Regions from separate parts of the Homo sapiens genome. Here region 1 is linked to region 2. The links come from fine-mapping of genetic effects on gene expression. A gene starts in region 2. The other region holds a variant in brackets. All regions are shown on one strand. Distances are from middle to middle.

The links. PIP is the estimated chance that this variant, and not a neighbour inherited with it, causes the effect.
Region 1: its variant is the best candidate, but not a certain one, in a credible set for the expression of KERA in gastroesophageal junction (GTEx, PIP 0.56).

The regions. Positions count from the first base shown.
Region 1 is chr12:91,407,075-91,423,679 of GRCh38, reverse strand. All of the region lies in intron 2 of LOC105369896 (a long non-coding RNA gene), which reads left to right. Among named protein-coding and RNA genes, the nearest start is that of LINC02823, 88 kb to the right of the region's middle. RefSeq lists enhancers at 16,476-16,605, 16,264-16,605. The variant G/A (reference allele first, on the strand shown) is at 9,361.
Region 2 is chr12:91,052,558-91,069,162 of GRCh38, reverse strand. It overlaps KERA (keratocan), which reads left to right and starts at 11,139. Exons shown (of 3, transcript NM_007035.4): 1 at 11,139-11,419; 2 at 12,874-13,767. The coding sequence starts at 12,882.

The DNA.
Region 1 (16,605 bases), 350 kb before region 2:
TTAGCCTTTGATGGTATTTGTCCAAACAGTATCAGACTTTGTCTTGAAACATGTCTCAGAGAGCAAATCTCTTTTGGTCTAACTCAAAACAGATTATGCACCCAGAATCCTCACCATTTACATGCAAAAACGATTAGCTTTACCCACTCTCTTTGAATGACTCTGGAGAGATGCCCTCCTCCTCGGTCTGGGTTACTAGCACTCTCAAACCCCAGTGGCTGCTAGGCATGTTCTTTTACAGAGCCATTATTCTAGAAACGCATTCACCATCAGCTCTGGGATTTTGACAAGACCTAATGCATTTTCTCCGAAATCAAAACTCTTGTCTTTCAAAAATTATAAATATTTAGAGAAGAGAAAATGTTAATTCAGAGATCTATGTGTGTTATTTGCCTTCAACTACTCACCACTCCTTTCAGACCATTTCTGTTACCCTACCATCATGCTATTTCTAAACTAGCCATCTGCTTCATTGTGTTGTCACTTTCTCTTAGAAATCTCCTTTGGTTTCCCTTTTCGTAAACGAAAAAGTTGTTTTGTTTGTTTTTTTACTTATTTCATGGCCCTTCATTCCCCACCTACCCCAGGGAAACCTGTTCTTCAGCTTCACCGAACTCCTTGCCTCTCTAAAAACACCACAGCCTTAATTTTGTACCTTTGTACATACTCACCTTTCTGTTTGTGATCTACTCCACTCCTCAATCACACTCATATTTATCCCCCAGGCAACAGTTCAAATGTCATCTTTGGAGGGAAACTTTTCCCAACCTCCTCCCTCTGGGCTCTTAAAACACTTTTTACATCCTTCTATATACCCTTAGTTTATCCATGTTATGTTAAATATTCTGTTGTATTTCTACCACTTCTTAGTCTTTGCTATGCCTTTTCCCAAACATCTTATATTGACAAACACAGTTTTAGTGCTCTATAAATATACCTTGATTACTAAAATTTAATACATTTTATGAATTAATAAGCAAATTTCTTTTGAGGGGGTTTCAGCTCACAACACACTGTTTAATAAGGAACTCCATGGAGTCTCTTTTGAACAAATAAATATTTTTCTTTGTGAACACAATTTATGCTATGAGCCAGTGTCATGTGATTTCTGTGCAAACAGTACTATCTGTCATAATAAAAAGATGTTCAGATCTTTCTCAACAATTGTGTTTTGAAAAATCCTGATGCCTGATGAAGAGTGATCCAAGTTCTAGGAAATGCCAGCAATTAGGGATTATGAGAATACCAAACACGTGTGCTAAATAGATTACCTTGAACATTGCACACAATTCATAAACTATGTGGTGCCTTAAAAAACAGCAACAAAGAAACCAGCTAGATCCTGACTTCAAAGCAGAGCTAAGCCCAGTATCCTTGTGGTGCACATTAAGCCTGTGCATGGAGCAAAGGTGTGTTTCTCTTGGCTGTTATCTACTGTCATAAAGGCAGGATGCAGGACTCCCTGAGCTGCCATCCCATTCTGCCCACTCTCTCTGCTGTCTTACAGCATGAACAAGCAGGACCCAAGGCACCCAGAGGAAGGGACCACTTACCCCAATCCAGACCAGGAAGCGGCAACCTACTTGGTTGTATTTTCTCACAGAGAAAGAAGCAATATTCATTCTAATTTTGGTCACGCAACAGCTGAGTAAAACAAAGTATCACAGATGAAACACATTATGGTTAGTCCAAGACGTTTGTATTTTAAGGTAGTTGGCTTCTTGTCTCTCACCCTATGATGACCATTTCTGGCCACCTCTTTTCTCTAAATTTCCATTTTAGCATTTTGCAGCTAGGGTGGCTTTTACTCTTTTACTGAAATTGATAACCTCCAGCATGAAATTGTTTATCAAACTTCCCCTTTTTGGGGTGGGGTGGTGCTTAGCATATTTTCATTTCTCTAAACATTATTTTATAATTTTGGTTTGCAGTCTTGAAAGAAAAGTTTTTTAAACTTTGTTTTCTTCTGATTTTAAATAATCCTGTTTTCTGACAGGATTTATAGAAAAAATTTAGGAATTTAGAACTCCCAGATGTCATATCTGGATACAACAATTATTGTAGCACAATATATATTTATGCAAAAATTACAAAATTTTAGGACATCCCCACCCTAATTCCTAATAATTAGGTTCAACATCCAGATATTAGAAAGAAAACAAAATTGTAAATTTACTTAAGTATATATTGTGCTGAATACTCAGGAAGGTTTCTCAATATAAAGATTCAAGTTTTCCTCTGTCTCTGGAATATTGACTTATTGATTTATTTGTCTTCTATCATGGCACCAATGCTGCACTACCTTTATTACAATGCCTTTATAAAATCTAGAAGTCAGGTAGTGTTATTTCTTCAGTTTTGTTATTTTTCAAAATTGTCTTGGAAATCTAGGTCATTTGCATTTTCTATAAATTTTAAAATCAGCCTTTCAATTTTTTTTTTTTTAAGCCTTCTGGGATTTTTTTTTTTTTTTTTTTTTTTTTTTTTTTTTTGAGATGGAGTCTCACTCTGTCGCCCAGGTTGGAGTGTAGTGGCTCGATCTCAGCTCATTGTAACATCCGCCTCCTGGGTTCAAGTAATTCTTCTGCCTCAGCCTACCAAGTAGCTGGGATTACAAGCACACACCACCACTCCTGGCTAATTTTTGTATTTTTAGTAGAGGCGGGGTTTCGCCATGTTGGCCAGGCTGGTCACGAACTCCTGCCCTCATGTGATCCACCCGCCTCTGCCTCTCAAAGTGCTGGGATTACAAGTGTGAGCCACCACGCCTGGCCACCCTTTCTCTTTTTTACTTTCTGTGAATCACTACTGTCTATCCCTTCTTTGAAACTTCTTTTCCCCATTTAATTCCATGGGCAATATTTTCCTGGTTTTGCCCCCAACTCCTTTACACCAGCTGTAAAAGCTGGCATAATATTGCCTAAAATGTGTTCCAGAGAATACTACATCCTCAGGTTATTAATTGCCTAAAAAATACATACAACAATAATAAAAATATAATAAGAAAGACATTCAAATAAGTTTGGGCAACATGAACTCAAGATTCTTTGTTGTGAAGTCTTTAATATACTAATGTGCATTATGTATTATTTGGCAGGGGTTATGATATATGGTTTTATCAAACATACTTGTCTTAAAAATCTTATCCACGGGGAGTTTTGCAGAAACATTTAGAAATACTTTTCAAAACACCAACCTGGTGATATAATAACAAGTAATGGGGCATTAAAAATTGCCATGCCTAGCAGGGGGAATCTGAGTAATTCTGGTATCTTCCCATTCCTCAGTTTACTCATCTATTTTATTCTCCTACCATGTTTCCAATTTTTTCTGTAAAATTAGATTACATTTTGTTATTCAATGTAATATTAATTCATAATTTATCATCTTTACTGAACTACACATCTTTGTAACAGTTACAATGATCCTGAAATTTCAGCATCATATTACTTCACATGAGAGATATTTTCCTCAGAGCAGCTAATGAGATTACTTTTGGTTTATGATGTGTACTAAAAATAATTTTAGGAGAGAGAGCAGGGGTGAAAATGGTGTTAAGAAAGCAAAATCACCTTTGATGAAAGCATAACTCTGAATTACAAAACTGTTCCAACCTTCCATTGTGTGGTCAGAGGGAAACACTGGACCTCAAAGTACCAATTATGGGTTACAGCTGGCCTGTTCAAGATGACTAGAAGTACTCTGCATTAAGGATACAGGCAGAACATTGTGGTTAGACTTGGAGCTAGATATGCACTTAGAAAAACAGTTGGGTTAAACCAAACTCCCTCCACCTGAAAGGAGGGTGACTTCAAACTCAAGTGAAAGCATTAGTTTCCAGTTAACATGACAGAGTGGCCTAATCAATAATGAATTGCAATGAGTCCATGGGCCATTCTGCCTTTCTTGATCAATATGGTTTCTCACATCTTTATGGAGTGCTGGCAGAAGTGATGCTCCCTAACTCCCAAGGGAAAAGTTGGCAAGACACACCAAGGCCCACATTTAAAAAACCAAGAGAGTAGACACTATTATTCGGCATTTAAGAACCAAGGCAGGAGGGAGGGAGGAAACAAGCCACCATTAATTTAATATTATATTTTTCTGTGATGAAAATAAAACACAAGAGCATTTATGCTTGATAAATGAAGAGGGATAACAGTTTATATTTTGTGTTCATTTAACATGTATTTAACAAACTTTATACAGTGGTTTTTAACTTGGGCTTTTTGACTCACATTTTGCTTACTATTGACTTGCAAAATAAGTTTTCAATTTAGTTTTAATATAGAAAAGTTAGGTATTTAATATAAAATGAATATTAAATCATTTATCTAGAATCAAAAATGTGAGGTAACACGGAAGGAAATATAGTTTTTCCTTATAAGTATGTAAAGATATTTGATAGTTGTGCTGCCTGCTGGGTGTTTTAGAGCAATAAAATCTTTTCTACTATTTTTTGCCTATTTAACCACAATAAATGGCCTAGAGGTCAGCCTGCTCAGCTGCCATGGTGTGGAATCTTACAACATTTCAGGAAGACAAAATGTCTTTCATTTTAAAATCCTTATTCACTGTGATTTTGATATGAAAGATGTTACCAAAGTGTTGGGAGAGATTTCTATTGGAAAAGCTGATTATACATCCAGATCCTCAAAAGTATGCTTTAAGAAATTTATGGTTAAGGGATTAACATCTTAGAGCATGTGATGAACAATTTTATGAGTCAACTTGGATTGGCTACCATACTCAGTTATTCAATTAAACACTAATCTTGGTGTTGCTGTATAGGTATTTTGTAAATGTGATTAACATATACAATCCTTGACTGTAAGTAAAGGAGATTAATCTTGATAATTTGGATGGGCCACATCCAATTAGTTGAAAAGTTTTAAAAGAACTGAAGTTTTCCTGTAAAAAAAAGAAATTCAATGTGTGTCCTACAGCCTCAGCTCCTGCCTGAGATTTTCCAGCCTGTCCTATTGAGGATTTGCCTAGCTAACCACCATGATAAGCCAATTACTTGAAATAAACACAGACACACACTCACTCACACACACTATATATGCACATGTGTGTTTGCAATTAGATTTTGTGTCTAAAATTGAAATACATTTATTTTCTTTTTGGTGAGAAATAATTGTACAATATAATTGTTTGTGTGTGTGTGTGTATGTGTGTGTGTGTGTGTGTGTCACACTGCTTCTGTTTCTCTGGTGGAACCCTAACCGATAGGGAGCACATATGGTATACATTGTCCAGCTCTTCTTCAAAGACACTTTTGCTGCTCTTCCTGAAGTCTGTAGCCTCTCCTTCTCATCATTATCTAGCACAGCATCCTGTTTATTTTCTTCCTAAAAGTCATGATAATCTGCAAATTAAAAAAAAATTAACTACTTACTGTCTTTCTACATAACTGAAATAAAATTTTCTGAGATAAAGCACCCTCTCTCCTTCACTGAAATATCCTCAGGATGTAACACAGTGCACGGATCATAGTAGGCACTCAGTTTGTTGAATGAGTGCAACATAGAAGGCTTCTTACATTGAATCTTCATAAAGCCTCTGTCATATGAGGCCTATTATCCCGTTTTATATACCTCAGGAAAATTAAATGATTTGTCTCAAATCACACAGCCGATAAATGAGGGATCTGGAATTTTAAACCAAATTGTCCTATTCCCAAATTCATTCTGTTTCCTTTATATTATATTGCTGATTTGGGCTTTTTATTGAACTTAAATCCTACAATGTATCAGACTCTCAAGCACTATGCAAAACACCAAAAAGAATCATACATAGTGTGATCAGAGATACCTATAAATAGCTTTATTACTCAGCCACTGGCATGCCCGTAGAAGAAGCAATTGTATGGGAGTTACTCCTGCTTGGGAGCATGGAAGGAGGTATCAGGAGAAGGAAGCCATTCAGGTGGGCCTTGAGTTCATGAGCTGACATTGTGAAAATCAGTTTAGACCCAAGACAATACTGGCAAAGACATAAGCATTTGCGGGTTAAGACTGTTTGAGGAATGGTGAAATTGAATCATTTTAGAGTGTGAGATATGTGAGTGGGAGAGGATAGATAGGTATCTATACTGGCTATGAAATGGACTTAAAGTCTAGACTTAATCGACGTAATCCTATGTATAGTTGTGGTAGCTGTGGCAGGCCACACAACATGTTTGTTTCATACTGTAAATGTAAAATGTCACTTAAAGATCATTAGCAAGGTTGATCTTTGAAGGTGAAGAAATTTTTTTTTGAGACAGAGTCTTGCTCTGTGGCCCAGGCTGGAGTGCAGTGGTGCGATCTCGGCTCACTGCAAGCTCCGCCTCCCGGGTTCATGCCATTCTCCTGCCTCAGCCTCCTGAGTAGCTGGGACTACGGGCACCCACCACCACACCAGGCTAATGTTTTGTATTTTTAGTAGAGACACGGTTTCACCATGTTAGCCAGGATGGTCTGGATCTCCTGACCTTGTGATCTGCCCACGTCAGCCTCCCAAAGTGCTGGGATTACAGGTGTGAGCCACCGCGCCCGGCCAAAGGTGAAGAAATTAATAACCATTTGGAGCAGAAGATAACTCTCATGGGGATCTTTTAGTATGTTATTCCAGTCCTCCAAGAAACAGATACTGAGATGGGATTAAATATGCAGAAATTGCATTAGAGAACACAACTGTAAGAGAAAATGGGGACAGAGCTGGGAAATTTGAAAAAAAAAAAAAATGCAGGTCTGATCCCTGGCAAAGGAGAAATTGAGAAGACATGTTCTAAACTGCCAGATCATCTACAGAATGTTCAGCCAGGGCGTCAGAAATCCTTGAGTGAATGCTAACCATCAGAAGAATTTTGAATCTTCCAGGAAGACCTGCTTTTGCCTTCCTGGCCTGGTCAGTAAGTAACTGGTCTTGGCTTGTGGGAGGCATCGCAAAGCAGTGTCTGTTCTCTTGGCCGATAGTGCTACATGTTGTTGAAGGTCTGTGAGACACAGTCTTTACTTACACACTTCACATGGCTTGTGCCCTTGCAGAATTAAAGCACCTTTCTGCCTTAATTAAAGCTTTACATTGCAGTCTTCTTGAACATTGTTATTCACTTTTGGAAGTGGTAGGTGACTTTTCATGCAATTATTCTTCAACAAAAAAACTAATAAATTGATTTCACAATTACAAACAAAGTTCTCTAATGGTGAAAAGCTGAGCATGAGTTTCCATTTAATTGCCTATACCTGAAGATATATCCCTTCCCTTATGAAAGGAAGACAAGAGCTGGCACATGGCAGCCTATGGAATGGGAAAGGAGAGATCTCGTTAAGAGAGTGAGTGCTTACTCAGAATCGTGATCTCATCGAATTAAATCTTTTCATACTAGTCATTATTTTTGTGCCCATTTTACTAAGTAGAAAACTGAGGCTCAGCTAACCTCATATAACTAAAATGGGTCAAAGTCAATAATGGTTGTGTTCCCTCTTCTGTCCTATGCTGCTTTTAGATCCTTAATGTAAAGGGTGAGTGTGTCACTTAAGGGAAGGGGTGGAAGAAAGAGACTAATGGTTCACAAGACAGAATATCTCTTCTTTCCTAGGTCAGTGCTGCTCCCTTTAACTAGGAGGGCAGTTTTGGAAGTCTGAACACAGCACCAGTGGGGAACGAATAGAAACTGAGTGAGCAGCACATAGGAGGTAACATGATTAAGAGGCTGCCCCAACAGCTATTGATCCAGCCTTGAGGAGACAGACTACCTCTTTCTCCTCCCCTCCAGATTGATGTAAATGGATTGAAAAATCTGAAGCTGCCTTTCAGATATGTTTTCCCAGGTATCACCCCTGTGAATCTTCCATCTTCTGAGGTTCATTAATGACTTATTACATTGGCTCATATCAATACAATATGACCTTCACACTTGTCTTTCATTCACTCGACAAATTCTTGCTGCTTACCAACTTATGTTCCATGTGCTATGCTAAGGGCTTGGACAAAGCAGTCAGTAAGTCAGCCTTGGTTCCTGTCTTTGTAGAGGCTATCCTCAAGTCACTATAGCAATTGCACTTGCCAAAACTGGCTTGTGACTTTTTGTGCATTTATTTTACATTTTTGTGTAACTATGTTACATTTTGCAGTATGCATTTTTGGAGAATATTAACAAGATTCCCTATTTTATTTTTGCATTCCACCCTTCCTCCATTCTTACACACACACACACACATAAACACACACAGTCCTAAAACTTATTCTCCAAACAGCTATGAAATTTGTCTTTCTCACTGTATCTGATAGTGACCATAAACTCCAGACTCCATAGTGTAACCTACAAAGTCCTTCTCTATGTGACTGTGGCCTGACTTTCTAGATTCATCTCTGGCCATTCCTCCTTCCACCTTATACTCTATGTCACACAAAGACACTCTAGATTCTTGCCAATTCTCTTTACACAGAATGCCTTGCTTACCTTTTTCATTAGGGAAACCCTTACTGACCCAATTCAAATTTCCCTTTGTCTAAGAAGCCTTCACCCTGTCCTCCAGGAAACAGGTCTTCTCTTCCATGATTTACATGTGTTATAGCAAATGCTGCATTGTATTGCAATAGTTTGCCTAACTACATTTCACCTTTTGTTTCTTGAGTTCCTGTAAGAGACCAGATATCTTTTTGTTTTTGAACTTTCAGTGCCTAGCAAAGTTCCTGAACCCTGGTAGGGAATGAATAAATAGCTAAATTGATTTCATTTGAAGTAAGACTGTGGTTAAGAAAACTTGATTTTGTTTGCATGTGATGAGCATTAACCCCATGCAGAAATGTTATTTCACTAAATAAGGGTACCAGGTTCACATTTTTTGATGACTAAGCATTTAGATGAAAATCTAGTCAGGATAAGTCACCTTAGGATAATTTCAAATAGGCAATTCTCAACATTTTGTTAATTCTGGGGTCAATGACTGGACAATTAAAAAATAAAATATGATGAGTGACAGTGCTTAACATTTTAGCATTTCAAATGCCATATGTAATTTACCTCAAATCCAGGGCTTGGACAAAAGTTGCAGTAGAGCTAAATGAAAGCCCCCACACTCTTTTAAAATAGCTGAATGTAGCCCACTCCTGAGGCTGTTTATTTTTACATGATATACAATGAAAACACTATAATTAAGAATGGGTAAACCCAGCTGTGCTTTGGGTTGATCAAATTTCTTAAAGTTGCTTTTTGACTGTTTGGAGTCTGTGAAGACGAAAGTCTATGTTTAAGAATTTTCCCTCAATTTTTAAATCAGTGTTTATTTTAAAAGAAGTATAATCCATATGGTTTTGATTCCTCCACACTTAACTCATCCAAGTGCAGTTTTGTAAGAACTATTTGAA[G/A]TCAAAAGCTTTTTAAAATTTTTATGAGCTTTTTTGTCTTTTGCCCCCTCAGAAAAGGAAGCAATACTTGCCAAGTGTAAACAAAGTTAATCACCAAACAGTTTTATATTCTAAAATAATGAAACCACACTGGGTGCTGAATTTGACAAAACAGTTCTTTTATCCTCAGGGAAATTGTTGTCTAAGCTCGTAGAGTGACTGCCTTCTCTGAAGAAGAGCCCCAGGTGACATCAGCATTGTATTATTAGATTCTCAGATCCTCACAGTAAAGTAGTTGTTGTTTTCCAGCTAGAGTTTACTCACAATATCTTTATTTTGTCACAGAAGTCACCCAAGTACAATATTAAATGTCATGACTACCGAGAAAAGTTAGTGATAGCGTATCTAAATGTTGATGCAATGCTGTATCTATGAATGAGCATCTCAGGGCTGTCAGACCTTAGCAGGAAATCAAAGAGGATAAAAAACACATGACCCCATGGAAGCTCTCAAAGTCACATCTAGAAGAGCCCTCAGCAAACTACAGCTCACAGACTAGAAACAGCCTGCCAACTGTGTTTGGAAATAAAGTTTTATGAAATACAGCCACACCCCTACATATCACTCACAGCTGCTCTTGTGCTACAGTAGCAAAGTGGAATAGTTGTAATAGAAACCACATGGTGAGTAAAGCCTAAAATATTTACTACCTGGCTCTTTACAGAAAACCATTGCTGACTCCTGACGGAGGTGATACGTGGCTGAGAACTTAGATTTGCAGCTCTGGAAATAACAGAAAACTTCTCTGAATGTCATAGTCTCACTTTAGATCAAGGATTAAAAGAAAATTTAAATAATATATACACTTAGTGATTTTTGTAAAACGCTTTATTAGAAAATAAACATAGACCATTATAAATATATGCTATTTTGTGCACAAGTGAGAAACAAACATTTGCTGAAAATTTCCCAACTTCTAAGATCTCTATGATCAAACATTTTGAGGATTTTAAAAATACATACAATTCTCATAGCACTGAAGTATTCACGGTGGAGATCTCTTTGGCAAGGTAATTATTGTTTTCCTCTATTATCAATATAACAGAAAAATAGTAATCAGATTTCATAAACCTTACTTTGTGCTAGATACCTTTGCTGGGCTTTTTGTATGTGTATGTCTTCTTATATTTAATTTTGACAAAAGCACTAATATGCTTTTTAAGCTCCAGGGATCTTAGCTTCCTCTTTTGTAAAATGGGGATAATAATATTACTTGCCTCATAGGGCTATTTTAAGAATTAAAGAAATTAATGCATATAAGGTACTAAGGATAAGGCCTGTGCCATCTGCCAAACCCCAAATGGAACCGCTAGAAACCAGCTGAGCTAGCAGAACCTAACTTATTAAACATACTGTGGTCAAGGTCAATACCATTCTAGTAGGATAGGAGAATCTCAGAATGGGAAATGTCAGAAAAAAAAATATATAGAAAATGACAGAAAAATATATAGAAAATTTTCTATATAGAAAATATATAGAAAATTTTCTATATAGAAAATATATAGAAAATGTCAGAAAAAAATATGTCAGGAAAAAAATGGGAAATCTCAGAAAAAAATATATAATATGCACACACATATATATAGTTTTGGCTGATGGTTCTATTAGGAATCTTAAAAAGCAGGAGACTAATTAGGATTGGGCAGCTGATGACTTGAGAGTTATGGATTGGTAGACACAGTAAGGCAAGGACATTGGTACAAGTATTAATGAATAAGTAAGTAGTTGGTCTTATAAAACAAGTTATTTTAGTTCATTTATCTTCCAGGGACAATTATTTTCTGCCCCATGTTTATGTATTTCTTACCAGGTCCCCAGAATCTTTTAACACAAAAACAGAAAAGTATGTTGGTTTCAGTTCTCACGTCAGATGTACTAAGTTCAAATATGTATTAGCAATTATCATTGTCATTTTTATCATCATTTTTTTACAGATGAGGTAGCTGAGACCTTGAACGATTGGGAAACATGCCCAAGGTCATATAGTTTAGATACTGTAACTGCTAGCATCTTGTTCATATCTCAGAACCTTCATGTTAGTGTGGAATTAACAAAGTCTGTACTATAAGCATCTACTTGCTCAAATGAATCTTATTCAGAAAAATGAGAAAAACTGCATACAGGAGAAATGTACTCTTGTTAACTATAATGTGTCTTTTCTCTTGGAAGCAGTTAGGTATGATGGAACTGAAGTGGCATAGGAATGGTATGGGTAGCAGTGAAAGAGTGATGGACGAGTGCTGTGGCTATCTCATCAACTCTACCACCATCCTCCCCCTTCCAAAAAAACACACAAAAAATATATCAACCAGGCAAAGTTTCGTTTATCAGACCTACTGCAGTACAGTACAGGACAACATTACCTGTATGGTTAGTTCTGTCTTTGAAGGAGAAGGTCAGATCCAAATATCTATCAGGTTTGAGATCTGGTTATAATTGATTTAAGGTAGGTCTTTCAGGATAGAAAATTGATGGGTATTGGACAAGGTTTGTGGCATACAGTTGGTAGACACAGTGAGGCAAGGGTCTTCAAGTAGTTCTGGTAAGTAAAATGTTTGATAAGTGAGCTATTTGCTAGGTGAGCAATCTATTGTCCTGATAGGAGATCTTTTGTTTAAATTTGCAAACTATTTGCCCAAATTGGTTTGACATATTTCATGAAACTAATAGTAAAATTATTCATTGGCCATATTCATATCTGCCTTGGTGAGAATTCTCCTGGACCAAACATGTAAGTCATGCTGACACAAGGAAGCTTAGTTCTGAGTCCTAATAATTAAGATATATGGATGTAGGTGGTTTCAGTTCTCAAAGCAGACAAAGTGATGGATTATAGTTGTGCTGATTCTCATTCCCAAGGTTATTTATTTTTAAAAGCCCTTTTGGTACACCAGTCCTCTAATCAGGCAAATTATCTGCATACTAAAAAACATAAAATATAATTAGGCTAAACAATGTTATTTAGGCCAACAATTGTCTTATTATTGTTTAACTTTATCCGCAACATTGTTAATTTATGACAACTTTGTTAACACCTCTACCTTACAAAATGCAAGTGTTTATTCCCCTAATCAACAAAAATTTACTATTTTATAATTTTGTGTCAACTGGGCTAAATCACTTTCCAAAGCAAAATACTCCCTAGTCTTTTCATTTAAATATATCTATGTCCTTTACTTATATAGTTGTCCCTCCAATATCTGCAGGTGATTGGTTCAAGGACTGCCACAGATACCAAACTCTGCAGTTGATCAAGTCTCCTACATTAAATGACATTCTATTTGCATATAACCTACTCACCTCCTCTCATATACTTTAAATCATCTCTAGATTACTTATAATACAATGTAAATGCTATATAATAGTTGTTATACTGTATTTTATATATTTGTTATTTTCATTGTTGTATTGTTATTTTTTTTAATATTTTAAATCCATAATTGTTGAATCTGTGGATGTGGAACTCATGAATACAGAGGGCTGACTATATATATATATATATATTTTAATTTTTCTATCTTTTCATAGTAAAAGTAAGGAGGGATGACTATTTTTTCATGGTGCAGCTGATCTACTTCTTAGGGTTTTACTTATAGTTACTAAAGAAAAAAAAATAAAAACATTGAATTATGTAATTTTACCTGAGCAAGCAGATAATCAAAGCCCTGAGACTAACAGCCATAAGACTCCGCTGAGTTACATGGCAAGAAAGAAAAAATAACAATGCAAGCATTTTAGGCAACAGCTAAATAAATATCATAAGGAAGTGAGGAACGAAGAGGGGAAGAAGACAAGTAAAATTTTAAAAATAATTTAATCGATACTACAGTAAGTGAATTATAGTTAATAATCATTTATTCATATTTTAAAATAGAAGAATTGTCATGTTCTCAACACAAAGATGGAGGTAATGGATATTTCAATTACCCTGATTTGATCATTACACATTGTTTACATGCATCAAAATATCACATGTACCACCAAAATGTGTACAATAATCTTATACTGATAAAAATACAGAAAAACATAACTTAAAAAGAAAATTCACTCTTTAAGCAGATGTGTTAAAATATGTTTAACAAAATTTTTTTTTTAATGTAAGCAAGAAGTCATGTGGAAAGTGAATATTACAACTCTTAAACATATTTATCCAGATGCATAAAATATGTATCCCAAATCAAGTTTGCTAAAATGCTGTAATAATGAAAAAATAAGAAACAAATAGAAAATGGAGCCTAGTGTGGTGGCTCTTGCCTGTAATCCCAGCACTTTTGGAGGTTGAAGCAGGCAGATCATCTGAGATTAGCATTTTGAGACCAGCCTGGCCAACATGGCAAAATCCCGTCTGTACTAAAACTTCAAAATTTAGCATGGTGGCAGTTGCCTGTAGTCCCAGCTACTTGGGAGGCTGAGGCAGGAGAATCGCTTCTTGAACCCAGCAGACGGAGTTTGCAGTGAGCCAAGATCATGCCATTGCACCCCACCTGGGTGACAGAGACTCTTTCTCAAAAAACAAACAAACAAACAAACAAACAGAAAACTTAGGAAATGATTGATAATCAAGATTGATTAGAAGTCTAGTAAAGAACATTATGCAAGAAGGCAGGGTATGTCAGGCATATGGGGATTATAAGCAAAATGCAAATAATATACTCCTTGCCCCCAAATGAAGTTATTTTATTGATTTTTGTCTTCCTTGATCAACAATGTTCTAAAGAGAAAAGTTTCAATTAAATGCACATTTCCTTTCAGTTGCCAAGTCTACAAAAGGAAACAAGTTGAAATGCAAATGAGTAGCACTTTCTTGGAAAAATATTAACAAGGAAGCTGTATGTTGTATGCTAGCAGTAGCCAGAGACATCTGACAAGCCACTTCCAATCATATATGTATAATATATATATAATACTTTATATTGTTATATGTTAATAATAAATCAGCCTGTCTATTTTTCCAACTTTATGTGTATGCACAGCACTTTATATTGAGCAGAGAGAAAGCAAGCCAGCAACTAGAAGCTGAAGCAAATCCTACCAACAGGGCAGCCAGAGTGGTGAGCTAACTGTTCCACATGTGGCAGATTCTTTCTTGAAGGGACATCTGAGCCAAGCCTGATCCACCGGCACTGAATCCCAAATAAAATATCAAACTATTGTCCTGATTTCACATCAAAGAAGGTGTTGCAATGAACGACATCACATACCACACAATCCAAAAGTAACTGGACTCAGAGAGCTCGAACTTCTTTCTAAAGACCCAGCTGAAGCACCAGCTCAGAGTGCTGGTGGAAATGGTTTGAAAGGATTGTGTTTATTCCCCTAATCAACAAAAATTTACTATTTTATAATTTTGTGTCAACTGGGCTAAATCACTTTCCAAAGCAAAATACTCCCTAGTCTTTTCATTTAAATATATCTATGTCCTTTACTTATATAGTTGTCCCTCCAATATCTGCAGGTGATTGGTTCATTTACTTGAGACTATACCAGCTTCAGGGAAGCCAGTGATGAAGGCTAATGAACATTAACTGGATAAGTCACTTCGTTAACTTAGTTGTTCAGTGCCATTTCTAGGTTGGATGTTTTCTAGTAGGAATTAACATATGGTACAAAACTCTTTGTATTTTATTTCCACTCCGTATGTCTATCCACTTCTGTCTCCCTCAAATCTCCTAGGCACCTATCTTTTAATCCTTTTTCTTATAAGCTCCTGATCAGATGGCCAGGTCATTGAACATTGCTCAGAAATCTCTATATATGGCCAGGTGTGATGGCTTAGCCTTTGGGAAGCTGAGGCGGGCAGATCACAAGGTCAGGAGATTGAGACCACCCTAGCTAAAACAGTGAAAACCCGTCTCTACTAAAAAAATAGCAAAAAATTAGCCGGGCATGGTGGCATGCGCCTGTAGTCCCAGTTACTTGGGAGGCTGAGGCAGGAGAATCGCTTGAACCTGGTAGGTGGAGGTTGCAGTGAGCTGAGATCGTGCCACTGCACTCCTGTGACAGTGTGTGACAGACTCCTGTGTGACAGAGTGAGTAAAAAAATAAAAAACAGAAAAGCAAGAGAAAAGCAAGAGAAAAGAAAAGAAAAGAGAAATCTCTATTCATTCTTACCTTGGGCCATTTATCCTTCATCAAAAAAGTGAATGACTAGATTCTGTGCTCACAGTTTTGCCCCTTGGGAAGATTTTCTCTGTCTACTCTGTTTTAAGGCATCCCTGATTGTAGCTGTAATGCAGATTCCATCTATTTTTGGTTTATACCCATATACCAAGGCAAACTATTTATAAACCAACCTCAGGGCTTTTCCTCACCCTTCAGATGATTTGTGGGATACCTCCACCCTGTCTTCAAATGGAAATAGGTCAGAGCTAGGAGAGGGACACGAGGACAAGTGTAGTAGGTGACACAGGGTTCTAGGCTACCTGCTTATGTAGGTAATACATGCTTTGCAGTTCAACTTGGGCTTGATCCTGGCTGTAGCACTTGCATGGGACAGTGGGGCATTGCGAGGCCAGTCTACCTTTATAAGCTGTTGGGTTTGGCAAAATCCAGCTGATATTGAAAAGTTCTAGATGTTTTGACACAGATAGAATGGTCAAGCATTCTATCTGTGTGAGAGCAGAGTAACATGCCAGAAGTTGTTTCTGAATAGGCATATATTTCTTTGTGTATTAGTTACCTATTGTAGCATAACAAATTAGCACAAATTCAGTGGCTTACAAGAATTCACATTTATTTTCTCACAGTTTCTGTGGGACAGGAGTTTGAACACAGCTTAGCTGGGTCCTTGATCATGTCAGCCAGGCTGTGCGCCTGTTTGGAGTCCAGAATCCTCTTCCAACTCCACAAGGTTGTTGGTGAAATTAAGTTTATTGCAGTTGTAACACTGAGATCCCTTGCTGGCTGTCAGCTAGGAACTACTCTCAGCTCCTAGAGGCTATACCCCCAGTTCCTGGCCACAAGGCCCTCTCATAACATGGCAGCTTACTTCTTCAGAGCCAGCAGGAGGGGCTTACTCCAGTTGGCTGAGACAGAGTCAATAAAATGTAACATGATCAAGAGGGTGACTATCTCATCACCTTCACAGTATAGCATAGCCTAACAAAGGGATAATTATGCTGTAATTTTACCAGAGTCTATTAGCTAAGAAGGAAATCCCAAGTTCTACCCACATTCATAAGATTGTACAAAGACATGACTCACTGG
Region 2 (16,605 bases):
AAACAAGGGGAAGATTCCTGTGCACAAAAAAAGAAGCCTAGTTTATTATTATTATTTTTAATCAGGTCTTTATATATTTCTGGGTAGAAGACAATCACTTCTTTACCTGTCTCAACTTCAGACTCTTCCTATGCATACTGAACCGACCTGGCTTGTAGTCTTATTGGGACTCAGTAGCCCACAAGTATTTCTTCTGTCTTTATCCCTGTAAATCCAGGGTGAAACCTTGTGGCAGATGCTTGTTTTTGGTTTAGGATTCATTTGAAGTAGCCGCCAGTGAAGACTGTGTCAGTGGGAGCTTCTAGTCTCAGTTATGTTTAGTAGTGATGACTGACTGCCTGGTCAGATTATCTCTCTTTGTCAAGAGCCTCTTTGTCATCTGCCTGCTTTCCAACTACAGTCTTCCAGCCAGAAGACTGTAGTTGGAAAGACTTTCATTTGGAAAGAAAGACTGTATCTGGAAAGACTGTATTTGGAAAGACTTTCACTTATTCAATTCCACGTATCTCCTTCAAAGAAATTCATTTTTTGCTGAAAACATTGAGTTACCCTCTGGTGTTTATATTCTAGAAGCCTGTTTAACAAGGATATCATTAACAGAAATTGGTTATTGACATCTGATATGATTTGAATCTGTGTCCCCAGGAAACCTCAGTTTAAACTGTAATCTCCTATGTTGAAGGTGGGGTCTGGTGGGAGGTGATTAGATCATGGGGGAGGATCCCTCATGACTTAGTGCTGTGTTTATGATAGTGATTTCTTGTGAGATCTGGTTGTTTTAAGTGTGTGGCACCTCTTCCCACCACCTCTCTCTCTTGTTCCTTCTTTTGCCATGTGATGTGCAAGATTCTGATTCACCTTCAACCTTCAGAACCATCAGCCAATTAAACCTCTTATAAATTACCGTTTTCCAGGTATTTCTTTATAGCAATACAAGAATAGCCTAATACATCAGATTGTTGGCCAATGTAGGGACTTCAACATTGGCTATCTGCATAGCTTAGGTAAAAGATGGTTAAAACCCTGAAATTATTTGGGAGTGAAAGTCTGGAAGACAGTGATTCATAAAATTGAAACATATAGTTACCTGAAAGACACAACTCCTAAAGGTAAGGCTTTGAGGAACAATGTATCTATGGTCACAGAAAAAGGTGAAGGGCATGAAATAATTAATAGGTAGAGTAGCTGCTTAAAGGCCCATGGAACAGCTGGAAAAAAGAGAATGGGAAACTCAGATACCTGTGTTCTCAGCTCAAGTTCAGAAAATTGCAAAGTGTTTTATAAGGTTGTAGCAGTGAATTTGTAAATAAGGATAGATAGGAAGTTCTGGAAGAGCTTTATCTAAGGGTTTTATAAATCTAGGGGGTTATAAAATTATTTTAACACTGTAAAGGCTTTATTTTTACCCATTGCAGGAAGAGAGCTCAAATCAAAAAGCCTATTCTGAATTGTAATGAATGCACTATTCAACTTGTCTCTTTATAAAAAGTTAGAGCATTGATCTGGAAACAGAACCTCCCTCCCAAGAAATGGAATAGGGATTATACAACAAGATTCAGATGCACTGGTGTGCCAAGGATTCCCCAATCCTCACTGAAGCTCCTTTGCTTGCTGAAAAGCCCCACTCTTCTTGAGTTGTAAAGCAATTTCTACTTGTTCAGAGACTGTTTCCTCAACTCAGGCATTCATTCGCTTTAGGGGAAACATAATTCTTGTCATGCCCCATCCCCTTAATCTTCAATATGAGAGGTAGTAACAGGGTATCAATTAAAAAGTAAAATCTAGGGATGAAAACATTATTCTAAATGAACTATAAGAATTTTCTAATCTATACTAGCTACACATTAGGAAAGACAGATCTTTAGGATACTCAACAAAGGAGGGAGAGCAATAAAAATAGAGCAGACTAGCTTTAGTTATAAGAGCATACTTATAGGTTCTGGTTCCGGATTTATTATATTAGAGGTTCTGGATTTATTATACTAGTTTAAGTAGGTGGGAGTCTGATAGTTTCGTGGACCACTTATCACAAAATGGAACTCAATGGAATCTTACATTAAATGAAGTTGATCCTTTGGTAGATTATAAAGGCACAAAATCAGAACTTTCTCAAAATGAAATTTTGTAGTGGATTTATTATACTTTCACCAAGCATTGAGACCGATATTAGGGATGGGAGTACCAGCATCTTTTAAAAGATTTTAGTGATGTCCATGGGTTGCTGGTTGTCTTAGTTCATTTGAGATGCTATGACAAAGTACTATACACAGGGTGACTTATAAACCATTTAAATGTATTTTCTTTGTAGCTCTGGAGGCTGAAAAGTCCAAAGTAAAGGTGCTGACAGATTTAGTGTCAGACAGGAGCTTCTTTGTTATTTATAGTCGGTGGTTTCTTGCCATGTCCTCACATGGCGGAAGAGATGGGGGATCTCTCAGGCCTCTTTTATGAGGGTCTAATCCAATTTATCTGTTGTCAGGCCCTAAGTACCTCCCAAAGGCCCCACCTCATAGTAACATCAGTTTGGGGGTTAACATTTCAACATATGAATTTCCAAGGGACACAAAAATTCAGACCATAGTGTAGGTAGAAGGCAGAGTCATGAAAATTGATCCCCTTTAGTGAAGAAGAGCAAAGCTGGAGTGGAAGAGATCAAGTAGTGTCACTTGACTGCCAATGAGCAAAGTAACTATATTTTTTATTTATAGGTATTAGGATCAGCATGAAATCAGAATCACCCGTCACAAAGAGAACTTAATAATGGCCAATTGCAAATTAGATTTCTAGCAATGAAGAAGTGAAATTCGCCATCTTGTTATTTGATTTGTAAAACTCCAGAACCACTCATCAGAGCCCTGAATTGAGTCATTACAATATATGAGGCAGACTTTCTGCCCTTCATTGAATTTTTAAACCTCAGTCAAATCATGGACCTAGAAATGCCAGAATTAAGGATAGAGCATTTTTTCTTAAATATGTATTTTGTAATGATATCACAAGTGTTTGCTACTATATATATTTTTAAACCTAGTCCCTGAAGAGGAAAATATGGCTTTGAGGCAAAACTAATTCCTGGGGTCATCAGCCACTTTATAAGGGTTGTTTGGTGTTAAGATGGGACAAGTGAATAATTTATCTTGTTCTAGGTTATACCCTTTTCATATTTATATTTCCCAAGTAATTGTATGTATAATTAAAATTAATGAGCTTTGAAAGTGATAGATTTCTCATACTGTCTCTGTAAGCCATAAATGAAGGACCCATTCTGATTGAAAAAAAACTCAAATATTTCAGAGCTCCTCACTTCTATAAAAATATTGGATTAATAGCAAGGTCATGTCAGTAAAAAAATAGACATATCAGTGCCACCTTCAAAGACTTAAAAGTGCAGAATTAATGATTCCCAGCAGATTTCCATTTAAACTAGTGCCTGGCAGTACAGCGGACAAATAGTCTTAGAGGATAAAAATGAATTTTCCGAAGTTTAATTACATGGCAACTCCTGTTGCAACTGCTGTGCCATATGTAGTCTAAATCATTACAGCTCTTAGTGCCTTGTATGAAGCAAATGATCTGAGGAATGTCTGTTCCTTCTATTCCAATAAACAAAATGACCAGAAGCAGTATGCTTTCTTTTACCAGACAAGAACAGCAATACAATTTTGCTATACTATTCCTGGATTGTGTTAATTCCTTGACTTTGTGCCATATTTTAGTCTGCAGAAATACTGTCTTACAGGACATCGTGTGATACAATCAAGAGGGTAAACTGTATTAGCTAGATACTTTCTGACATTCACTTGAATGTCAGAAATGTTGGAGATAAATAAAATAGAAGGCTGTAAGTGGCCAACTCATTGATTTATTATAGAGGTTTAGGGTCTAGGACAAGTTGAGATATCCCTTCACAGTGGAGACATTTTGTTGAACCCTACATCCATTACCACTAGAAACATAGTCTCTTTGAATTGTGGAGGCCACATACAACCACATGCGAATCCACTACTGAGAAAGTATAAGCTTTCAGTTTGTCCCATGGCAAGAAGTGGTTCTCCAGAGAGATGTGGTCACAGTGATTTCACTGGTTATCACTCATCTGATTAAACGATATTCAAAGAATATATGGCAGCTAGATGCAGCCAGTGGTGAGCCTTAATAGGAGGATTCAACCTCCAGCTTTCCAAAATAAAAGCATGCTATCTTTAGTAAGTAATTATTATCCTTTTCGGACCTTAGGGGAGACTGAACAATAATTTGATGTTAACTGCCCATAAACTCAGTATTGTCTGGTCTATCTAGCCTAATCTGAATTGCCCAGCAGTGCTGATTCAGCAAGTACATGATATAAATGGAAATGAGACCAAACGGATTCTAGTCCTATGGCACTGCTGCCTTTCTGGTAAATCACACTTATGACCTCATAGAGGTTTTCTCTATAACTTGAAAGAGTATAAATACCATCTGATGATAGTTGACAAGATATAATACGCAGGAACTGATTGCAAAAATATAGCTCTGATTTTGGATGGCCTGGAAGGGCAGTTTTGTAAGATGTTAAGATGTTAAGGATAACAAGGATAAGGATATACAAGAATACATTTGGGATTCAGTGAAATCTCAACATTATTGGAGATATTATGAATCTAACAGTATTTTTTTTCAGCATTCTGAAGACATTGTGTCTTGTATGAGAGCTCATCTGAAGTGTTTTGGAGATGAGCTGTAAACTGATTGGCGTCTAAGCTGCTAGCCTCCTGTGGTAATATCTCCTGAAGGCCAATGGTTCTAAGGCTAACTTGGTAGAAATGGAGAGAATTTGAGAAGCAGGAAGAAAATGATTCTAGATAAGAGTGATCTGGGTAGCTGGTAACAGAGCTCTCCCCAAAATCACAAGGCTGTATTTATTTTTATTGTTTAATTAGCTAGTGAAAGCCTTCCTGTGGAGTCCTGGAGCAACTGGCACAAAAGAGTTATAAATATGCCAGTTGAATCAAAATATAACTAGCTTAGAAGTGGCAGAGTTTATAACTAGTTTAATATTAGTTTTGGAATCAGCATAGCCTCAGGATGGTTTAGACACAAAGAGTAAGCTGTAAACAGAAGGTTATTTACTATTTATTCATAATGACAGAAAAATTTCTTATTACCAGTATTAATAAAAAATCATAGTGATACAAAGTGCAGTGAAAGGCAAAATATTGACATTTCTTTGTCAACTTATATTCAGTATATGCAGACCCCCACATGCATATATGTGTGTACAATTGCATAATATATGTGTGTATGTAAATAAGCATGTATATACATTTTGTGTGTGTCTGTGTGTGTATGCATGTAGAGAGAGAGAAGAACATTTTTCTGGAGAAACTGAATAGTCACAAAGAAAAAGACATATAGATATTGAGTTGGGGATTGGTTTGCCCCAATAAAATAGCAAAGTCCATACCTACTCATTCTAGAGTAAAGCTGATTGGTGCTATCAATTCTCACAGATATTTTAATAAGGACTTTCTTTTTAAATATGAATCTATGTTCAGCAAAGCACTAACAGACATATGAGGAAAGACTCTAATATAAAATATCTCTGGAGGTTAAGTAAAACCAAGAAAAAAGTCAAAGAAAACAAAATTATTGCAAGAAGACAAAAACCTCGCACTGCCAGCAAAACTCTTTAGTTAAAATCCTAAGTGAGATAATAGAGATAGTAATTACATGAAACAAAAGAATGCTTTAGTAAAAAAGATCAGAGAACAAGTTGATGTATACTAAGAGTAAATGTATACGATATAGAAAATTTTAAAAACCAGAAGATGAAATCTGTCAGAAATCATAAACAATTTTGAGAAGGGAATTAGAAAAGACTAGATAGAATTAGACAATCTAATCAGATTTATTTTAAGCCTTAAAAAAAGAGAATATAAAAAAATTGATAGACTATATGAACATGAACTTCCAGGTTGGAAGAATTTTTGAATGCCCCATGAGTGAGTAAAATACACCCTTTCAAAACACACTATTATAAAATTACAGAAAGTGAAGATTGAAAAAAAAATCCTAAGGGTTTTCAGAGAGGGAAAGGGGTCACATTCTGAAGACTCAGGCCATCATTTTATCAACGTTTTCAGTCTCAACTCGAAAAGTTCCAAGACAATTGCTTCTTCGAATATCGTCAAACTTTTGAAGGAACACTATTTTAAATTAAAATTCTATTTAGTTAAAATACCAGGTAGGAGGGTAGGCTGAATAAACACATTTTAAAACGTGAATTTAAAAAAAAAAAAAAAAAAGGCAAAAACATATCCCAGGTAACAGGAAGTGAAGCGATTAGAGGATAGACTCTGCCAATATTGTGGTGTTAACCAAGAAAACACAAGATGGTGGAAGCAACAAGGAATCCGACAGAGAAGCTGGGTGAAGGGAAGTCCAGGACCATAACCGTCGCTGACAGACCCAGAAAGCGAGGTTTATAATATCCATACATTCACTTTAAAAGGCAGTAATTCAAGAGAAACAGTGTGATTTATTTTTGTGTTAATTTTAATTTATACCTTAGGGAAGCTTACTTAACATTGGAAGAAAACTTATAATGAAGACCTACTACATGAATTCTTTTAATGCCTGCTGCAAGTAAATGTCTACTATATTAGATACAATTGAGTTGCACTTACTTTTATCAAAACACCTCCACGTACGTTGTAAGAGAGGATTCTTATAGCCTTTGATAACTATAAGGCAACTGAAATGTCACATAAAGAACCTAATAACTGTGATCTACCAAATTAGCTTAGGTTGCTTTCTAACAGCAAGGAAATTGCCTTGAAGTAGGAAGTTATGACATCTCAGGAGAAATACTATCTCCCAGGAGAAAAAAATGAATCTAATATGTCTGTTTTTTTTAATCAACAATTGTAAAATGTTCTAAGTCGTTTCAAAATATTGACTCATTTAATCTTCACCACAACTTTATGAGGTACATATTAGTATCATTGTTATTATTATTGTTAATTTAAAGATGAGGAGACTAAGGCAGAGAAAACTAGAAATATAATTGTCTAAGATCTCACAGCCACTAAATAGCAGAGATGTATTCAAACCCAAGCAGGTGTGGCTTTAAGCACCATGCCATTTGCCTCTATTCACTGAGTGGAAACAATTTTTTCAAATGATTTTACAATTCTGTTTGAGATTTTGGAAAATATGAATGAAATATTTGTATATGTAATGTATTATGTACAGTTACATATACAGAGAGAAAGCAAATAAATGTGCTACAATAAAGAATCTATAGTACTTTTGCAATGTTTTAGTAGTAGACAATGTTTATATTGTATAAAAAAGTATGCACTAAATATTCATTTAATAAAAGCTTGTGATATGCATATATGGGACTGAGCAAGCATGTTAAATGTTAACTTAATTAAAAAGGTTAAATTGACAAATTAAAAAATAACATAAGCTGGAATATTAAAGCAAATACTAAAAAAAAGCTTTCGAATAAAGTTAAAAATAATGGCCTCTTGGGAGCAGGGCTTACACTGAAATGGGTGGGGTTGGTAATTATTACCTTCATTATGAGTTTTGTGGTAGTCTTGACTTTTTAAATTATCATTACACTATTTTAAATGTCTTACTTTGACATTTTAAGATTTTATATATATGTGTGTGTATATGTGTGTTAGATATATATTTTAGTGGATTCCTTTTATATTTAAAAAATTATATAACAAAGTTTAGTCAAACAAAGCTGAAATTGATTTATTAAGAGAAAATTCTTTTTCTTAGCAAAAGTTCAATCAATTCTAAATAAACAAAGCTCCCAGGAGCACCTAAGGAGTCCATCCAACCATCGCTGAAAACAGATGTGTCAGATACAAGTGCCAGCAAATTTGAAATTTCATGTCTTTTATCCACTCATGCATTGTCTTCTTTTCTAAATGTCAATAGTCTTCAAGAATGTGACAAGCTAAATTCCTTAGTGAAAGACAGTTTAGCAAAGTATCTTCCTTTTTAGTAGGAAGAAGTAGAAGCAATATAAGTAAATTTAAAACAAAAAATGCTAAAAAAAAAAAGGAGGGAAGTTACAAAAAATACAACAACAACAGCTTTATTTCCTATCAAATTTCTGAAAGGATTTATGTCTGGAAGGCAAAATTATCGACTATCACATTCTCTTCTGAAATAAATTTCTGGCATCATTTCCTCATATGTGAAAGCAAAGTTTGCAGAAATGATTTGTAAGATCCCCTTGAACTTTGAATTTTTCACTATGAAAATTGTCTATACTTATCCAACATGTTCACCTTCATTATCTCATTTGATCTTAAGATGACCTCGAGCACTTCTCAGGGAAAATACATTATCGGGAGACTTAGGCTCATGATAGTTAAATGGCCTATGCAAGGCCAAGCAACTACTAAGTTGCCAAAGGAAAATTCAAACTCACATTTTTAAAATATCAAAATCTAAGGCTTTCCATTATGTTCCTACTTACACAATTATGCTGATCAAAAACTCATGGCTATAAAAGTGATACAAGTGCCTTATATGTTTATTTGCTCATTTATTCCTTCAGTAAACATGTGTTGACTACTTGCTATGTGCAAAGCCTCATAGACATTTAAAATATCAAATTGTCACTAGATAGATTGTGCCATAGCCACCTTATTAAACTTTAGGATTCCTTTCTACCTTTTTGAAATATCAGATAGGACTAGTCAGAGTCTTTTATTAATTTTTATATCAGTTCATATGACTCAGACATTCTTACTAACTTCTGAAATTTATTCAACTTAAACAGTTCCAGAGAAGAGTTAAAGTACCCACTCTTCAAGAATCAATAATCGAAGAAAAGTAGATTAGAATGTTACAGGAAAAATCGAGACACAGATAGTGATTACCCTGACAGTGGAAACAATTCTATGTTTTTAGTCTGGAAACAATGATATTAAAACTCGGCAAGCATTGTAGATGATCATTTTTATTTGTGTCATGTCTCCCAAAGTCCTTAAAATGTGATTATTATCATATGCGCACAGAATGAGAGAGAAGAGTTAAGAATGATTTCCAGATTTGTGGTTTGGGAGACTGAATGTGACAAAAGTCTCAAAAGTATAAAATGACAGGAGCAGTTAGAAGTAAAAGGAGACAGAGAATTTCGTTTTACATATATGCCCTTGAGACATGCAACAGGAGATGTCTAGAAAGCAGATATACACACACATTGGAAAGCAGGTCTTCTAGAAGCTGGGTTGCAGATACAGACTCAGGAGTTACCATGATGGAGGAGATGGTTGGAACCATAGAATCATGCAGGAAATGTGTATAGAGCAAGAAGAGCACAAAGCAGAGGACAGAATCTCAAAGGGTTCCAAATGCTAGAAATGCTCTTAAATAATGTTATAAAGAGGAAATAGAGCTTTGGGATATAGACAGAGAGAAGTCACCAGAAAATGGGAGGAAAAACTAGGAAAGAGTAATGTCAGAACAACTAAGACGAACATTTAATAAAAGGGGGTGGGTCAGTATTGTCAAAGGCCAAGTATGCTTAACACTAAAAGACTTCAACAGATTAGTAAATGTGAGGATCATTGCTGATTTTCTGTCAGAACCATTTTAGGGAAGCAGAATTAGAAGTCATATTTTGGTTGGCAGATCATGAGTGGAATGGTGAAGAGGAAATAGATTGGAGGCAGCCAGTATACTACTCTAATTTTCCTACAATGAACATGTAGCAACATTTGTATAAGAAAATTATAAAAAGACTAAAATCAGTTTGGCTAAAAAAATCAACAGTAAGACAATAGCTGGAAGAGGGCCATGCAGATTTGAAGATCATCTGTTGTTTAAATCCTGAGGGTTTAGGAAAAGGAGAGGGAGAAATGCAACAGAGAGAGGAGACAATTGTTGTGAGAAAGCAAGTAACACTTGGTTGTCTTCTTAAAATGTGATGTGAGTACACCTACATACCTATAGGACTAGTAAAAAATCATGTCAAAATAGGATCTCAATCTATAAAAACCCTTTAATATAAATGCATTTTCCAGTTGAGAGTGTAGGGCTAATTCCAAATAAGGCTATTATTTCTGTAATTGTTTATAACAAACTAGACCTAACTCTGTGAAGCAATCCATTACTATTTTGTAGATGACAAAACTGAACTTTAATTTACCCTCCTATGGTTAGGAGAGAGGAAAGAGGTGGTTCACAAAAGGTCCTCTGAATCCAATGCTTAATCCTCTTCACGGTGCTCTTTGACAATACTCATGTGAGCTGTTAAATGAGTCATATAACATTCACTGAAGCTAGAATAAGAGAGATTTTGAAAAACAAAACAACAATCAATCCACATAATAACACCTAAATGAAATATTTTTTGTTTGCATCTTTTCTCAAGAAGCATAATTTTTTTTCATCAAGTATCAGAAGTGGAGGACACACTACTTTAGATATGTGTTAAAGAAAAAAGTAGCAGTGTAACAGAATGTCTCATAAGGGACTATATGCAAAACATGTGTTATATTATAATGAATAAAAAATTATCCCACCTTAGCAGGTACTTGGAATAAATTGTTAAAAGAAATATAATAGGAAATAGGGATACAAAAATTATTTCTCTGAAAAAAAGCATAATACCAAGATTAGCACCAAAATCAGGTAGTGCTTTCCAGATATCACATTTACATTTTTTCAAATACATATATTTATTTATTTTTCCCTTAGTCAAACACATTACAGCATCTATTTTATATCAGGAACAGATAAAATATGTCCATATAAACAGAAGACATTGGCTTTTAATTATTTGTATTCAATTTTTAAGAAATGATCATCTAGGGAAAATGTTTTAAAATCTTTTAAAATATCTTTTTGTTATACTTTAAAACTGCCTTCAGCTGCCTATTGGTAAATAAGGTCTGGATATCAGTACATGACAACATATACTAATGAATTGAACTGTGAATTAGGAATGAAAATTGCCTAGAAATTTTTTTATGAGTTATTAGGATTAAAGTAAGAATTTCCTTTGCTGGGCTGTGTAGGCACTAAGATTCCGTGGTTGTTGGAGGGGTTAAATTTGGATCTACTAGTGCATATATTTTACCGAGGATTCATAAAAACACGACAGTGGAGCCTGGGTCAATCCATTACCATGTACAAGCAGTGACCAATAGAAAAGGAAGAAGAAGATCCAAGAAGGCTGAGGTAAGCAGTCTTCTGAAGCCCTGTCAAAGTGGAAACAATAGATCAAAGGTGTTCATGGTGACTGGGACGAGTAGGTTTCACTGTTTCTCATAGACGACTTGACAGCTTAAAGTAAAAACAAATTATTTTCGTCAAAGTTTTTTTTTTTCTCTTAACTGATTTTTAGCAAACCTCAGACTGAGACACAGGACTCAACGGTGTATTCCTGGAAGGCAAGGTAAACTATTTTGCACTTTTAAAAACTCTTAAAGTTAAGCATGCAAAGTACTTATTCAACAGACGCAGGGTTACAACTTCAATAACTAAACCAAAACCCTATTCTGAAAAAGAAAAAAAAAAATGATGTTTCTTTGTTGGAACATGGCCAGAGCAGCGTTCTGCAATCCTAGAAAATTTGACAGCTTGCAGAAGCAGTTCTGCACTTGTTTTCTGCAATTTAATGGCAAAATTGAATGATCAGCATTTCATAAATGAAGTTGACTTTATCTTTTCCTAAGGAATCAGTAAAATTTATTTCATCCTATTATCAATCAGTTCAATAAATGTACATTGGTCAGAATGTTACTGATATATATATATATATATAAATATATATGTAACATATGTATGCTATAAATTATTAAAATATATATGTATATTTCCTGTTAAAATAATTATTTGTACCAATAATCTTTGATGATCAGTGGGGAGGGTTTATGTGTTTTAAATGTATCAAATATTAGTAAACGCTAACCTACTTTCCATTATCCACACTGATAATATGAATATAAAGAAATTCTCCACCCGTATCCTAAATATGTTTTTGGTTGTTTTTGTTTCTTATCAACCATAATAATGGCATAGTTGAATACAATACTCATGTACTTGTGCTATACATCACAATGTATTCAACTCTATATAATAAACTCTATCTCTATATATACATATATATACATATATAGAGACAGAATATACATATTCTCTGAGAGAGAGAGAGAGAGAGAAAGGGAGAGAGAGAGAGAATTGATAATTCAATAGCTTGGCTGAACAACTTAATTGTGTGCTTAAAATTATAGACATCTTCCCCCACCCTCAAAAAACTTACTTGAGAGGTTGAGCTAGAGAATAACAGATTAATTACATTTTTATTCAGATCCTAGAACCTTCCTTCACCATAAAGTGCTAAAATGTTCTTTGATCCCTTCATTCCTTTGGTTCAAGGGCCAAAAGGCCTAGGAAATCTCATCCAGATGTTCTGCTCATTTAAGAGTAAAAGTAAAAGCATATGCTTTCCTCTCAGGAACAACACAGATTCCCAGTTTGAGTTTTTAAAAGATCACTTTTTTGTACTCTCATATTCAACTACTGGTTTCAGTTCAGTTCTTTAAATTAAATAGCTTGAAATGGAAAAACACTTAGAGCTGCTAAAATTTTCTTTCCATTTCTCGGCTTTTATTGTGTTTGGGTTACAACCAGAAAGCTACAAGTCGGTGAATTATTCTCAATGTTTGCAAAATGCTTTGCATATGGTGCCTACTAACTAATGTATATTAATTAAGATCTGTGTATGAAATGTTGACATATTTTCACCTCTTCCCTGAAGAAGCAATGTTTACTGATCATTTTGATGTATAAAATTATCTAAAGGTCAAGATCTTCAAATATCTAACAGTTGTGTTCCTTTTTCTGTAGGTGCTATAATGGCAGGCACAATCTGTTTCATCATGTGGGTGTTATTCATAACAGACACTGTGTGGTCTAGAAGTGTGAGGCAGGTCTATGAAGTACATGATTCAGATGATTGGACTATTCATGACTTCGAGTGTCCCATGGAATGTTTCTGCCCACCCAGTTTTCCTACTGCTTTATATTGTGAAAATAGAGGTCTCAAAGAAATTCCTGCTATTCCTTCAAGAATTTGGTATCTTTATCTTCAAAACAACCTGATAGAAACCATTCCTGAAAAGCCATTTGAGAATGCCACCCAGCTAAGATGGATAAATCTAAACAAGAACAAAATAACCAACTACGGAATTGAAAAAGGAGCCCTAAGCCAGCTGAAGAAGTTGCTCTTCTTATTTCTGGAAGATAATGAGCTAGAGGAGGTACCTTCTCCATTGCCAAGAAGTTTAGAACAATTACAATTAGCTAGAAATAAGGTGTCCAGAATTCCTCAAGGGACCTTTAGCAATCTGGAGAACCTGACCCTTCTTGACCTACAGAACAACAAATTAGTGGACAATGCCTTTCAAAGAGACACTTTTAAAGGACTCAAGAATCTCATGCAGCTAAACATGGCCAAGAATGCCCTGAGGAATATGCCTCCAAGATTACCAGCCAATACAATGCAGTTGTTTTTAGACAACAATTCCATTGAAGGAATACCAGAAAATTATTTTAATGTGATTCCTAAAGTGGCCTTTTTGAGACTAAATCACAACAAACTGTCAGATGAGGGTCTCCCATCAAGAGGATTTGATGTATCATCAATTCTAGATCTTCAACTGTCGCACAATCAACTCACAAAGGTTCCCCGAATCAGTGCTCATCTGCAGCACCTTCACCTTGATCATAACAAAATTAAAAGTAAGTAACCTGCAGAGTATGTCTTTGACTAAAGGGCTCATGGTCATTAAATGTATCTTTATTTTCATTAAGAAGAGCAAATGTGTTGCCCCCTCCCCCGCTAATGTTCCTTTAGATTTTTAGTGTGTTTTCAATTTTCAGTATTAAATTTTGTCTATACGCAGACAGTCTTAATGAACCAAGAAGTCCAAATCTTCAAACTGAAGACTAAAAAGTGGACTTGAGTCATCTACAGAGGACTATTATCCATTAGAGAAACTGAATGCCTCTATCTTCTTTTACTCCAGGAGATTCCAATATTTCTGCCCCATTGGGTAGGCTTATTTAAGAAACCATACCAGGCACAAACAACCTCATGACTAGTAATAAAGAAAATATGATTTAAGAGGCATTAGGAAGGCATCTTTGTCCTAAACACTATATGACAGCTGATGCCTGAAACCCTCCTAATTGGAGTCTCTAATTAAACTCCGCTAATTACAGTGGGAGTCTCAAACAAGTGTGTAAAGGCTGGTGACTCCACCCCCAGAATTTCTGATTCAGTAGATGTGGAGTGAGACTTGAGAATTTTCATCTCTAACAGCCGTCCAGTTGATGTTCTGGGAACTACACATTGAGAACCACTACTATAGTTTAAGGCTTTATTAATTAAAATGGAAAGAAATTTCCCTGGTAGCTGGCAACTCCTTGGGACTTACAGGCAATCGTCAGGTAGAATACTCTCTCCTTTCCTGAAAAGAGCTTTTCATAAGGGAGTGAGAGATGAATTCAAAGTTTTTGGAGGCAGAGGCATCATCAAGAGAAGAAGTGATTATAGAAAGCAGATGTTGGACACATTAGAGACAAACTTGGCTTCTTCACAATTATGCATGAGACTAGGCTGGACTTGGTGTAAAAATAGGTCCAGCCACAGGGGTACGATACCTAGCCTGGCATTTATCTATGCATCTTCAAACTCAGAGTAGACCCTTTAAAAATAACTCTGGGGAGATTTCTCCAGGACAACCTAAGAAAATGCATTCCAAAAGTAATATTCAGTCAGGATAGTTTGTAAGAGAATAACAAAGATAATTTGTCAAAAGGTTGTGCTGCCTGGGTATTACTCACTAAAGCTTTTTAAGCAAATAATCACATAAACATATCATTTATAGGAACAGACTATTTTTCCACTGGGAACTGCTCAGTTATTTAAGAATTTTTGTTTTTTTGGTGGGGGGAGTTAAATAACAGTGTACTTGAGTCTACAATCCAGGAATTAAATGGCAGCCTGCCATCATAGCGGTTATTTTTCCATGGTGATGAAATGTATTGTTTAATCCTGTAGTCAAAAACAAAAGATGCAACAGAAAAAAAATGTTAAGAGATGAATCTGTTTAGCTGAATCAAATAGAACAACAACAATATTGACCTAAATACATAATTTTTCCTGACGAGTGTTCTGTGCTTCTACAGGTATATTACAGGTACATTCCTTAAAAGCCCCACGGACAATTGATGTGGGAAGTAAACTTCAAGTGACTCCACATAGAGCCCTTGCTTACAAATTATGCATTTCATCCTGAGCATTTGTGAATTAGGGTGTTTAGGAGTGAGGCAGCAGTATTTAAAACACAGTTGAGAAGTATAAGACTTTAGCTTATGGAGTATTATGTGTGTAGTATAGACCCACATTTTAGAGTTTTATCAAAGTGTTTTCTCATAGGTTTCTAATTTTCTATCGTTCTCAAATCTGAGTGTGCATCAGAATCACCTGGAGATCTTATAAACCCAGGTTGCTGTTTCCTACCCCCAGAATTTCTGACTTGCTGGGTCAGAGGTTGGGCCTCACAGTTTACTCCCCAGGTATTAATAGTATTGATGTTGCTGGCTCACGATTTGAGAACTACTATTTAATCCTTGCGAGAAACTTGTGTGATATTATTAGGAATTTCTGAAAGAGAGAAACTGAAGATCAGCTAGGGGAGGATATTTGCCCAAGGACAAAGGGTAAATGCAATAGCCAGAACCTGAGTCTGAAGTGTTTTTTTCACTCATACAGTATAATAACAATACTTTCCTTCATTGTCATGAATACAAATTTTTAAAAAATTCTATCAGTAGAAAAGCAACAAAGAGAAATCTAGTTATTTACTTTTTAATGTAGATATCAAATTTTGTCATTTCAATATTTAAGAAAATAAATATAAGAGTTTCCCTGGAGAGAATATTGATATAATAATATCACACTGTGTCAAAACTGTTTAAGTACTTGCTTCTTCTAGCCACATCATCTACTCTAGTTGTAACAAAGTGGTCTCTAAGAAACATATCTCCTCTATGAAAAGACATCAAAATTTATGAGACAGTGAACTTGTCTTAAGCAATATGATGGAAATATTTATTTTTCTGAAAACTTTCAGGGATTTAAGATTAGGTAAAAATGTTATTTACTCAACTACATTACTTTCTGGTGTTCCCTGAGAAACACTGTAATTTATGAAAATGTAATTAAATTTAGAATACTTCTTTTTTATATTCATTTATTCAGACATACATTGATTATGGGACATGAGCTTGATGAGGATAAGGGGATTGCACATCGAAAGGGACATATTCTTTTGGGCAAGAGACACATTGTAGAATTAGAAAGAATCGGCCAGGTCTCAGCTCTGCCACTTACTTTCTGAAATAAGTTGTGTGCATTTCCTTATTTCTCTGAACCAGAATTCCCACAAAATGCCCAGGTATGTAGAATAATAATATTGGCTGATAAAGCCTGTGAGATGATCAGGTGATACTTGGATGTATGTAAAAAAAGAGAACCTGATTTTATAACAACTAAACTGCTATTCAAATGAG